Linked DNA regions of Homo sapiens. The protein of the gene in region 1 purifies or fractionates together with the protein of each later gene. This does not show direct contact. Each region holds a gene or a part of one and is shown on either strand. Other genes may lie near its edges.

Region 1 (3,655 bases):
AGTGCTCATAGCTGCTAGTGGCAAATGTGAGTGAAATGAAGCAATTTTTTTTTTTTTTGAGACGGAGTTTCACTCTTGTCACCCAGGCTGGAGTGCAATGGCACGATCTCGGCTCACCGCAACCTTCGCCTCCCAGGTTTAAGCAATTCTCCTGCCTCAGCCTCCTGAGTAGCTGGGATTACAGGTGCCTGCTACCACACCCAGCTAGTTTTTTGTATTTTTAGTAGAGACGAGGTTTCGCCATGGTGGCCAGGCTGGTCTTGAACTCCTGACCTCAGGTGATCTACCTGCCTTGGCCTCCTAAAGTTCCAGGATTACAGGCATGAACCACCACTCCCAGATGAAGCAATGGTTTTAAAGAAAAGGATAAGAAACACAATTAGAGAAGTTAAGGGGAAAAAAGGACACATGTAGTATGGATGGAAGTGTGCTAAAAAATGACTGAAGTGCCATAAAAGCAGCGGGAATGCCACAAACACTAAACTGACTTTAAATACTAAGTGACTGAAGTAAATAGAACAGAGAAGGTAAGTGACCTGAATCCAGAGATACTGTAGCACTTGGAAGTCAAAGAGGTGACAAGCAGACAGCAAAGACCAGAGAGGTGGGCAGGAAACTAAGAGTGTGGTATTTTGGTAGCCAAGTAAAGACAGTGTTTCTAGGAAGAAAGAAGGGTCAACTGTTGGAACTGCTGATGATACGTCAGATGAGGATTAGTGATCAATCTGAGTATTAGCAGTTTGGTAGCCAACCACCTGTACAAACACAAATTTTTTAACCACCTTACATTTGACAGCTGTTGATTTTTACTACATATAACATTTCCTTGAGATTAAAAACTTATGAAAAAACTTTGTGAATATAACAGAAATTAACAACCTTATATACTCTGTCAGAAAATAATTTAATTTTACCAAGGTTACGAAGCAGTACCTGTAAGTCGGGGAATAATTGTTTTGTTGATGATTGCAGACAAGACTTTTTTATCTGAACTACTTTCCTTCTTTGAATCTTCCACACTGCTATCCATAAATTCTTCTACAGATTTGAACCATGGCATCTCTTTTAAACCTGTGGATTCCAACTTACAAAGAAAATTACAAAAGTTATAAAGAAATCTTTCAACATTAGTGTATTTTTAAATAGTTATTATTTTTTTCAATAATCACCAGAGCTTTTCTAAGGATCAGAAGAGATTAATTCCCTATTTTAACACTAGACCACCAAGGCTAGGCAGGATTGCAGGACAGCATGACTGAGACATGGTGTCTAAGTAACATAAGAAGAAGCTGCATTTCATGCATTCAATCACACAACAAACACTCAACAACTACCTAGTGTGTGCCGGAGCCTTTAGACCCTACCACATGGCAAGTACTCTGCTTGGAGCAAAATACAAATTTGTTAGGCACTTGAAACAGCCATGGAATTTGTTTATAAAAAAAATTCATCCACTTCAAGCAAAGTTTATTTCTGGCCCCTTCAATTCACTAAGCATAAATATGTAATTTGTATGTGATTTAGTTAAAGGTCCTATTACACAGTAGGCAGTTGCTGAGTTCATACTTCTTTTTTTTTCTTTTAGTCAGTCAAATTCAGTGAACAGAGTTTATATTCCTTAACTTAGGATCTAAATATCTGTGCAATTTCTAGCTCCTGAACTAATACTTCTCCCTTTACACCTTTATGAAACACCTTTCCCTTTCTGATTCATCCTGTTTACCCCATAAACTCTTCAAAGGCTTGCATTCCACCTTCTCAACACAACCCTAAGCAACTCTTCCCAGTATGTCATCTCCAACTTAAGAATTCTTGAAACAAGGCTTTTATATCTACTTTCTCCAAACCCAACAGTACCTTATACTTTCTGGGAGGATTTTAAATTTAATGTACAAGAAGCTAAAAAAAAATGTGTTTGCTTTACTGATGTTAATGATGCTTAGCCTAAAAATCAAGTGACAGCCAAGAAAAGAAGAATGTAGCCGAAAGCACACATTTTCTGACTATTGTTCCAAAGCTCTAAATTTCAGCTCCGACTCTAAGGGTAAGGTATTTAATGCCTAACACAATAGTAAGGGAATTTAAGCAACTAATATAATCAGGATAATTTTTCATATGTTAAGCATAAATACCTTAAGAGGATTCCAATCAATCAACTGAACTCGTATTAGGGGATTTAAAAGCTTTGGTATGCATAAACTAATGAAAGCTTCATAATAGGAGTCAGGAAACTTTTCTCGCCATTGCTGAAATTTCAACAAAATATTCTGGATGTTACAAAAATCATCTTGCACTTCTTCAAAAACTTTCTTCTGTTTCTGTAAAATGTCACCTGTAAACAAAATAAGTCTCTTTATGCATTTTAAGTTGTGAACTTTAAGTATGCTTCCTTAAAAACACGGTCATGATGGACTGTAATCAATTGAGCTAAAATTTGTCCTTTTATATTAATATAAATTTTTATTAAATCACTTTATCAACAAAGTAATAATATCAACACTAATAGAAGTTACCATATATACCCCTGCTATACGCAGAAATACATTAATCTCATTTTACCATCGTAGCTATCTTCCATACCATATAGGTATAGTCTACTTATTTACAGACAAAACAACATCAAATTTAGGGAGGTCAAAAAATTTGTCTAAGATTACACAGAAAAAAATCTCCCTTAGAACCCAAATTTATTTAAATCCAGAGCCTAGAATTTTTCAACTATATGCATCTTCTCATCATGCTAAAAAGTTTCACCAAATTCAAATGTTTTAAGTTAAAAATGACAATATAGAAAGTATGTGTGGTAAAGAAATGAAATGAAGATGTTCATTATTAATTGGAGAACGTCTAAGAGAAAAAACTATGAAGATGTAAGAATACTCACAATGTTCCTTCCTTCATTTTACTCCATTTTTTCAGAGAAAAGAGTCTTACAGAGGAAAAATGTGTTTCATTTTTCCTGAATTTACCCAACTGTTTTATATAGCTTATGTACTTATTAAGGGCAATCCCAGCAAAGTGTTTCTCACCATTTCAAAACTCAAACCATGATATATTAGAAACTTGGTAACTGACCTTGGCTTTTTTGGAAGTCAATCATCTCTGCTGAAGGCAGTTCATCATCACTAGATGTTCCTTCCTGATGGTTACAATTCCCAGAAAGCACCCTTGCTTGTCTTCTTTTTGTCCTATATTTTGCAACAAACCAAAAATAAACAAAAAGTAAGTAGTTCTTGCTGAAAATAAATGCCTAAATTTTTTTTAACCTCTTGCTGAAAATAAGTAATTTTATCATTTATTTTAAATGGCCAGAAATATACTATCATATCAGCGCACAATTTTATTAATATTTTTGACATTTTTAGTTTCATTAGTTTGAGTTGGTGGTTCTGCATTTTTTGTTTTGTTTTGTTTTCTCTTATAAGACATTCCCATTTAGGACATTCCCATGGGCTAACCAGATTCCGAAGAGGGGGTAATTATAATTAGGACCGGTTTCTAGTTACAAGGAATTCCCAGCCTGATAAATGTCATTTTACCCATTCCTTTTAACTGATCCAAATACACCAATGTGTCTTTAAAGCAGTCAAGGGTGGTTTTACTAAATTTTGCTTTTCTATTATTCTTACAAATTAATAATGTATATCAGGTATAG
Region 2 (3,655 bases), on another chromosome or scaffold:
ATAAATGAGGATGAGAAAACACAAGAAATTATCATTTTTCAGTTTACTATTGCTAGTTTTCCAGCATTTGCAGTTTTCTATGTCTTCAGCTGGCTATTCCTAGAAATTAATACTTGCTGAATATCCAAATTAATAGATGTTATTTTAAATTACATTTGTCATTGTTCTAGAACAAGTTTCTTGTTCTTTCACCTTTGTGTATGCTGTGATTAGGTTAATTTTATCTCCCTGCCTAGGGTTTGTGATCTTCTACTTAGCCATAGAGTATGGAGTACAATGGATATTTATTTAAAGAACATAGACTAAAACATGAACCGTGTGCTAGTCCAAGCATTGGCAAACTACAGCCCAAGACAAATCATGGCAAATCCTGCCTGCCAGCTGTCTTTGTAAATAAGGTTTTTTTGGAATAATGCTATGCCCATTCATTTACATATTGTCTAAAGCTGTTGTCATGCTTCAATAACAGAGTTGAATACTTGGAAAAGAGACCATCCAGCCTGAAGAGCCTAAAATATTTACTATTTGGCCCTTTACAGAAACACTTATATTAGGCAATTTTATAATTTTTTAAATGTTTTTCTAGGTACCAGTCAAAAAGATGAAACTTTTAACCTGCCCAGACTCTGTATCCGGAAATTCTTCCCAAAGAAAAAATGCTTTGTCTTTGATCGGCCCGTTCACCGCAGGAAGCTTGCCCAGCTCGAGAAACTACAAGATGAAGAGCTGGACCCCGAATTTGTGCAACAAGTAGCAGACTTCTGTTCCTACATCTTTAGTAATTCCAAAACTAAAACTCTTTCAGGAGGCATCCAGGTCAACGGGCCTCGTAAGTCCCCTTCCTAGTACTTCTGCTCATTGTTTAAGACTAGAGGAGCATAGAATAACTTCCACCTAGTTTCAGCATTGAAAAATCCCAATCTACTGCTATATTTGTGTTAAATTCTAGATGGCACCAATGTTTCTAACATATATTGTTAGTCACATTTCCAGTCTAGGAAAAGGCCAAAGGAAAAAAGTTCTATTGCTTGAAATTGCCCTAGTGAACTGGACCTGCACTATGCAATAGAGTAGCCCCTAGACAAGTGTGTCTATGTAAACATAAATGTAAATAATTTAAATAGGGAAAATTTAAAAGTCAATTCACATGCCTGTATTTCAAGGACTAATATTTACACGTACTTAGTGACTAGCACACTGAAAAGCACATATACAACATTCCCAGCATTACAGAAAGCGCTTTTGAACAATACTGCAATAAAATAAACTAAATGGATGACTCTTTTTTATTGGAATAGTGTCATTTGTTTCATACATATTGATCAAATGCTTACTATGAATAGACTGAAGATACAGATATAAATGAAATAGATATGGTTCCTGTCCTAATGTTGGTTGGGGTTAAAATGGATGCAAACATTCAATTAACACAAGTCTATGTAATCTAGTACAAGAACTCTCAAATGTTGGTATGCATACATATCTTCTGAGGATCTTACCAAACACAAAAGTCTAATTCAATAGATCTCGGACAGGGTCTGAGAGTCTATTTCCAGCAAGCTTCCAAGTGATGCTGAGGACATTGATGCTGTGAGGAAAATAGGTGGTATTTGACATGCTCAGAATTACATGGAATAGAGACTTTCTTTACCACCAGAAACATTATCATTTGTTCTTCATATGCAGGTCTAGAGAGCCTGGTGCTGACCTACGTCAATGCCATCAGCAGTGGGGATCTGCCGTGCATGGAGAACGCAGTCCTGGCCTTGGCCCAGATAGAGAACTCAGCTGCAGTGCAAAAGGCTATTGCCCACTATGAACAGCAGATGGGCCAGAAGGTGCAGCTGCCCACAGAAACCCTCCAGGAGCTGCTGGACCTGCACAGGGACAGTGAGAGAGAGGCCATTGAAGTCTTCATCAGGAGTTCCTTCAAAGATGTGGACCATCTATTTCAAAAGGAGTTAGCGGTAATTTTTGTCTCAAATGTATACGGTTTAGGGTCATAGAAGCTAAAGTACCACAAGGAAAGAAAACTATTATTTATTTTGACGGAAGTAATTCCTCCTAGCTTCCATAATGGTGAAAACAACAGATTTGTGATCACATCAGTCAGAAGGACCAACTGTATTATTACAGACCCAAAGTTCTAAAACATTTTTTCCTGAATAATTTTCCCTTTACTTATGCATACAACTGACAACCAGAGCTTCTAATAAAATTACCTGCCCACTCTTCTCAGACTGATTTGATATTCTAGCCAAACACAAAGAAAATTTTCATCCTACTTATCTTGAGCAGGCTTCCGTTCAGCCACATTTATTCCATATGAAATCATTAGTCCAATATGCAAAAACAGAGTTTTCCTCTAACAGTTGACATAAAGCTATCAATCTCAGCCCTGAACCTCACCTCCAAAAAGAAAGCGACTTCAGCAGAAAGTGGGGTCAGAAGGAAGAGTGTGGTCCTGGTGAGGAGGCTGTCAGTTTCTCCAGCATCATTGACTTCTATTTTCAGAAATCGTTCCCAAAATTCTGAGGTCAAGCTAACATCCTTTCCCTGTTACTCTTTTTACTTCCTATTTTTACATTAAAGGCCCAGCTAGAAAAAAAGCGGGATGACTTTTGTAAACAGAATCAGGAAGCATCATCAGATCGTTGCTCAGCTTTACTTCAGGTCATTTTCAGTCCTCTAGAAGAAGAAGTGAAGGCGGGAATTTATTCGAAACCAGGGGGCTATCGTCTCTTTGTTCAGAAGCTACAAGACCTGAAGAAAAAGTACTATGAGGAACCGAGGAAGGGGATACAGGTAACCAAGATTTATCTGTCAATTATGGAAAGCTGCTGACCTGCCTCCTACAAACACCAAGGTGACCAAGCTTCACTGCATACAGATGTGCTTTTTTGTTTGCATAACATTCATGCTTTTATTCAATAACATATGCAAACAGGCTGTTATACCAGATATGTCCTAGGTGCTCATCAAAGAGAGTGCAGTCAATTAACTATTAAGTTATAAATTCAATTAGCAGATGAAGCACAAAGTTATTATTGTCATCATTACAGCTGGGCTTTTCCTGTTGCAAGAGACAGGAACCCAATGATGGCTGCTTAAACAAAAATGTAATTCATTGATTTAGGCTGCAAACTGGCTTTACAGGTCAGGTGGGTCTAAGGTTTCAAGTAACATCATGAACTGGCTCTCTGTCCAGTGTTCCCCCATCCCCACAGTTTTCTCCCTCCCACCATCCCTCTATCTGAGTCACTCTGATATTTGCTTTCTCAATGATGGCTTCATTCCCCAGCAGGCTCAGCCCATATGGGACCACAGCATTAACAGTTCCAAACTTAGAGCCCTTAATCTAAACAGGACAGAGACTCTCCTTTTCCCAGTATCTATATTAGCCTACTAAAAATGACTGCTAAGTAGGATGTTCTGATCGGCTTGCCAGGAGCATGTGTCTGTCGCTCCGACAGGGAATTTGACCACCAAGGACAATAGGGCCAAGAGAAAGAATTCCCAGAGGAGAAAGGATGGCAGGAAGACAAACAGGAACACCTGCTTACAGCCATTTCCTACTTCTCACTCTGTGTTCTCTGGGTCCTAAGGCTGAAGAGATTCTGCAGACATACTTGAAATCCAAGGAGTCTATGACTGA
Region 3 (3,655 bases), on another chromosome or scaffold:
CATCACCTTTGCCTTCCATATCTATCATATTTCTTTTGATTGTGTGATAGGATTTTTTTTTCTTTTTTCCCTGCATTCACTAAAATAATCTCAGACCTTTACTCTGTGCCTTACTCAATTTTCAGTCATTTTTATTCTGTTCTTTACTGCTCTAATTTATCTACTAGCTCATTACTGATGCCATTTGAATCTAAATTTGTTTCCTTCACTCTGCAATCTTTTCATCTTATTCTGTGGTGTATTATCTTGTCTTTGAGCTTTTGTTATATTATATTTTTACTTCTCTTGAATCATCCATAGCTTGAGATAGCCATGGAGAAGCCACTTTCTCCCAGGCTGAGTTCCTGGGTTTTCTTTTCCTTTCTCCCCTCCTCCTTTCTGTCCTTCTGTTGGTTGTGGTATGTTTGCCTAGTTTCCATGCCATTTGTTTTCATCTTATCCATGCTTGATGTCAACACCTACATTATCCCCACCTTTTACTTGCTCAGATACAGTGTAAGTGGAGTCTCCTTGTCATTCTCCCCACTTATGTGGAACTGGTTGTCTTCCCCACTTCAAATGTTAGGTTGCTTTCTCTCTATTCTATTCTAGCCTGAAGAGGTGTGGGAGAGAACTGGAGCTCAGCTCATGCTGAGCGAGCCCCTTGTGGGAGGGCTAGCCTCTGTTCTATCTTCCCAGACTCCCTTAAAGTCTTGTCCCAGAGCCCCCTCCACCAGCCAGTGGTGTCCCTCTGTCACCACTCCAGGCTCTGGGTAGTCCCCAAGTATGGCCCAGCACCCTGGAAGGTGGCCAGCCCTGCGTGCCTGCCCTGCCACTCCCGAGCCCCTGTGATATGTGTGGGCTTCTGCCCTCAAGGGCTTTGTTTTCAGAGCTGCTCACCCACTCCCCTGTTGGCTGTTCAGAATCGGAGGGTATTTGTGAGAATCTCAGCATGACATTTCTTTCCTGGTTACTGGTTTCAGGGAATACAGATGGAAGAATTTTCTATTTTTTCCTCTTGGCTGACTCTTTTTACAATTTTAGCATGTTTGGTTCCCTTTTCTTATTTGGTTGATGCTGGTGAACTTTTGACTTTTTAATTTTTAATTTTTGTATGTTCACTTTATTGGGTGTTGGGAGCATGTGGTAAACGTGCCTGATAGCAATAACTGAAACATACCCTTAGAATGACCCTGTATGGCAGACGCATCTGAATGTGTGTTCTGAGCTAGGGAATCCAGGAGTAGCCAACCTGGAGGTTCCTTCCTTGTCTATAAAGGGACATCTGAGCCCCTGGCTCGTCCTGTGAAACATGGGCCGCACACGGGTTGAGGCCCCGAGTTTTGAGTTGAATGAAGATTGCCAGGTGGAGATTGTTAGGGAGAAGGTGCTAAGTGGAAATGCTATATAAACTGCATGCTTTTTGCAAGCCATTGTGGTTCTCCGCCACCATTGGACTCTCTGCCCTGTATGTAAGTCCCCAATAAAACCCCATGTCTCATTTGCTGGCATTAGGTCTCTTCGGTCTATTGAACCTGATGCCATCCCCATTGGAGTCAATAGAGGTTCGGCACAACAGGGAGGCAGAGTCTAGTCCTGCTTCATTCTACTTTCTTTGTCTGAAAGGGTTCCGTCGGTACTTCGATGTACTTCTTTCCTGTCTTCTTCCTCTCTCCCCCTCATGTTGTTATGAAATAAATTTTAATTCTTAATACCAGTGAACTGAGAGTCCATGATTAGGGTACAAGTATTGGAAGTGACTCAGGTGTGAGTTGCTCATGCCACAGCTTTTCTGTATTTCTGTAGTTGGTTCATGATCCTTCATAATGTCACATTTCCATGGTGTAATTTTAATGAAATTGAATCACTCAAAAGATCTTCAAATAACTGCACCCAGCCTCAAGTATAATGAATGACTGAGCAGCCCACTGGCAGGTCTATGGTGGAAGGCAAGCAGGAGTTAGGCTCTCCTGGGTCACTAGTTCATATTTTCTAGCTGATTAGGTGACACGTTTTTTGTTAAACATCTCAGATGGGCAGCAAATGACATCCTGGGCTCTTCAGCAAGTTGATGTACCACTTCCATTCCCAGCTGTCCCTCAGTCTGACTACTGTGGAACCATTCTTTCCACATGCTTTCTTGTAATACATCTTTGCCAGATGCCTTGTCAATTCAAATACCCTTTGACTTCCTGCTTCATTTCATTTTAAACCATTTTTCTACCTTCAACTTTCCCATATTATAATAACTATAGAGGCTCTTTCCTTAGCCCTCTGAGTGTCTTTTATTTGTTTCTACTAACCTTTCTGTCCTCTCTGTAAGACATAACATCCTGTCAAGTTCTTCCTTTAGCTCTTCCTGCTCTGCACTTGGCCTCACAGTGCTCACCAGCTGCTGTGATTAATTATATGCTGATTATCCTGTGCGTCACTCTCACTTTGATTTCATCTCTCCTCTTGGTAGCCCCAGGAACACCTGAAATGTAACGTGTTGAACAGCAAGCTCTGTTAATTTTATTCATTTGATGAGTATTTGCCAAGAGTCTGCTGGGTATCCTGTGCTATTCTAAGGCCTGGGAGAAGCACTTAAGCATTAAAAGCCAAGGCATTTTCTTTTTCCTTGCAGTTCCCTGCCCTGCCAGGAAACAAACTATTCATTATAAGAAACAACTAGAATGGGATAATATAAATATGCAAATGTATGATAGTACGGTGTGGATTATGTATATAATATAGGTTGGAGTAATTCACAATAAGGGAAAAAGCACAATGGAATGAGATTAGGATGGGAAGGAGGCATATGCGAGATGGGTCTTGGGAAGTAGAGGGAAGGGCATTTTGAATTTAGGAAGAAGGGTGGGTACAGGGCAGGAGTGACAGAGGCATGCAGGGGTAGGGAGGGAGCCCGCCACCCCCGGTGTCACATCTTCCACTCTAGACTGGCTCTTGTGACATCACCCAGCCACCTCTCCACACCCAGAACAAATGCATCAAATGTGATTCAAAGGCCCCTGTAAAATTTACAGATCTCGGAACTGCCTGTTTAGGGGACAGTAAGGAGCAGTTTGGGGCCAGTTAATGGAGACTCCTAGACAGAGGAGTTCAGATTTGATTGAGCATGACTCAGGGACCATTTGGGACTCTTGAGTCTGGGATAAGACAAATCTGAGGAAATTTCATCCAGCTGTGGACTATGGCAAGACAGTTTGGTTCAGGGTAGAGCAGGACTGTGGAGCTTGGGCTTGCCTTGTGCTTCACATGAATACTTACTAAATGTAGAGGAGTTGCCTTACCCTGCTGAGCCAGCTCACCTGTCGGGAGTGTGGTTACGTGCACCTCCTAGGCTGGTTGTGAGTAGTAAATGAGCTGATGTTGGTACAGTGGTTAGCATGGGCTTGACACAAAGTGGGAGCTCAAACAAATGTGACTGGTTTTTTTTTTTTATTGTTAATTCATTTAACAAATACCTATTAGACTCCTTCTGTAGGCCAGGCACTCTTCTAAAAGCTGGAGATACAACAGTGAATAAGAAAGCCCTCGCGGTGCTCTCATTCTGGTGAGAGACGGAGAATGAAAAAGTACATAATATACTCTCAGGGATGGCAGATGATATGGAAAAAAGAATGTACTGCTGGGATGGAACAGGATTTCTCAACCTAGGCACTATTGACATTTA

The links.
Region 2: the proteins of GCFC2 (region 1) and GBP1 purify together in Homo sapiens (affinity purification with mass spectrometry; one large-scale study listed by BioGRID and IntAct). This does not show direct contact.
Region 3: the proteins of GCFC2 (region 1) and PPIL1 purify together in Homo sapiens (affinity purification with mass spectrometry; one large-scale study listed by BioGRID and IntAct). This does not show direct contact.

The regions. Positions count from the first base shown.
Region 1 is NC_000002.12:75,686,894-75,690,548, forward strand, and holds part of GCFC2 (intron Large complex component GCFC2), read right to left. Parts: intron 3,189-3,655; coding exon 3,076-3,188; intron 2,333-3,075; coding exon 2,133-2,332; intron 1,085-2,132; coding exon 934-1,084; intron 1-933.
Region 2 is NC_000001.11:89,055,166-89,058,820, reverse strand, and holds part of GBP1 (guanylate-binding protein 1), read left to right. Parts: intron 1-586; coding exon 587-829; intron 830-1,686; coding exon 1,687-1,967; intron 1,968-2,592; coding exon 2,593-2,805; intron 2,806-3,605; coding exon 3,606-3,655.
Region 3 is NC_000006.12:36,864,749-36,868,403, reverse strand, and holds part of PPIL1 (peptidyl-prolyl cis-trans isomerase-like 1), read left to right. Parts: intron 1-3,655. UniProt on the Homo sapiens protein: Involved in pre-mRNA splicing as component of the spliceosome. PPIases accelerate the folding of proteins. Catalyzes the cis-trans isomerization of proline imidic peptide bonds in oligopeptides. Catalyzes prolyl peptide bond isomerization in CDC40/PRP17.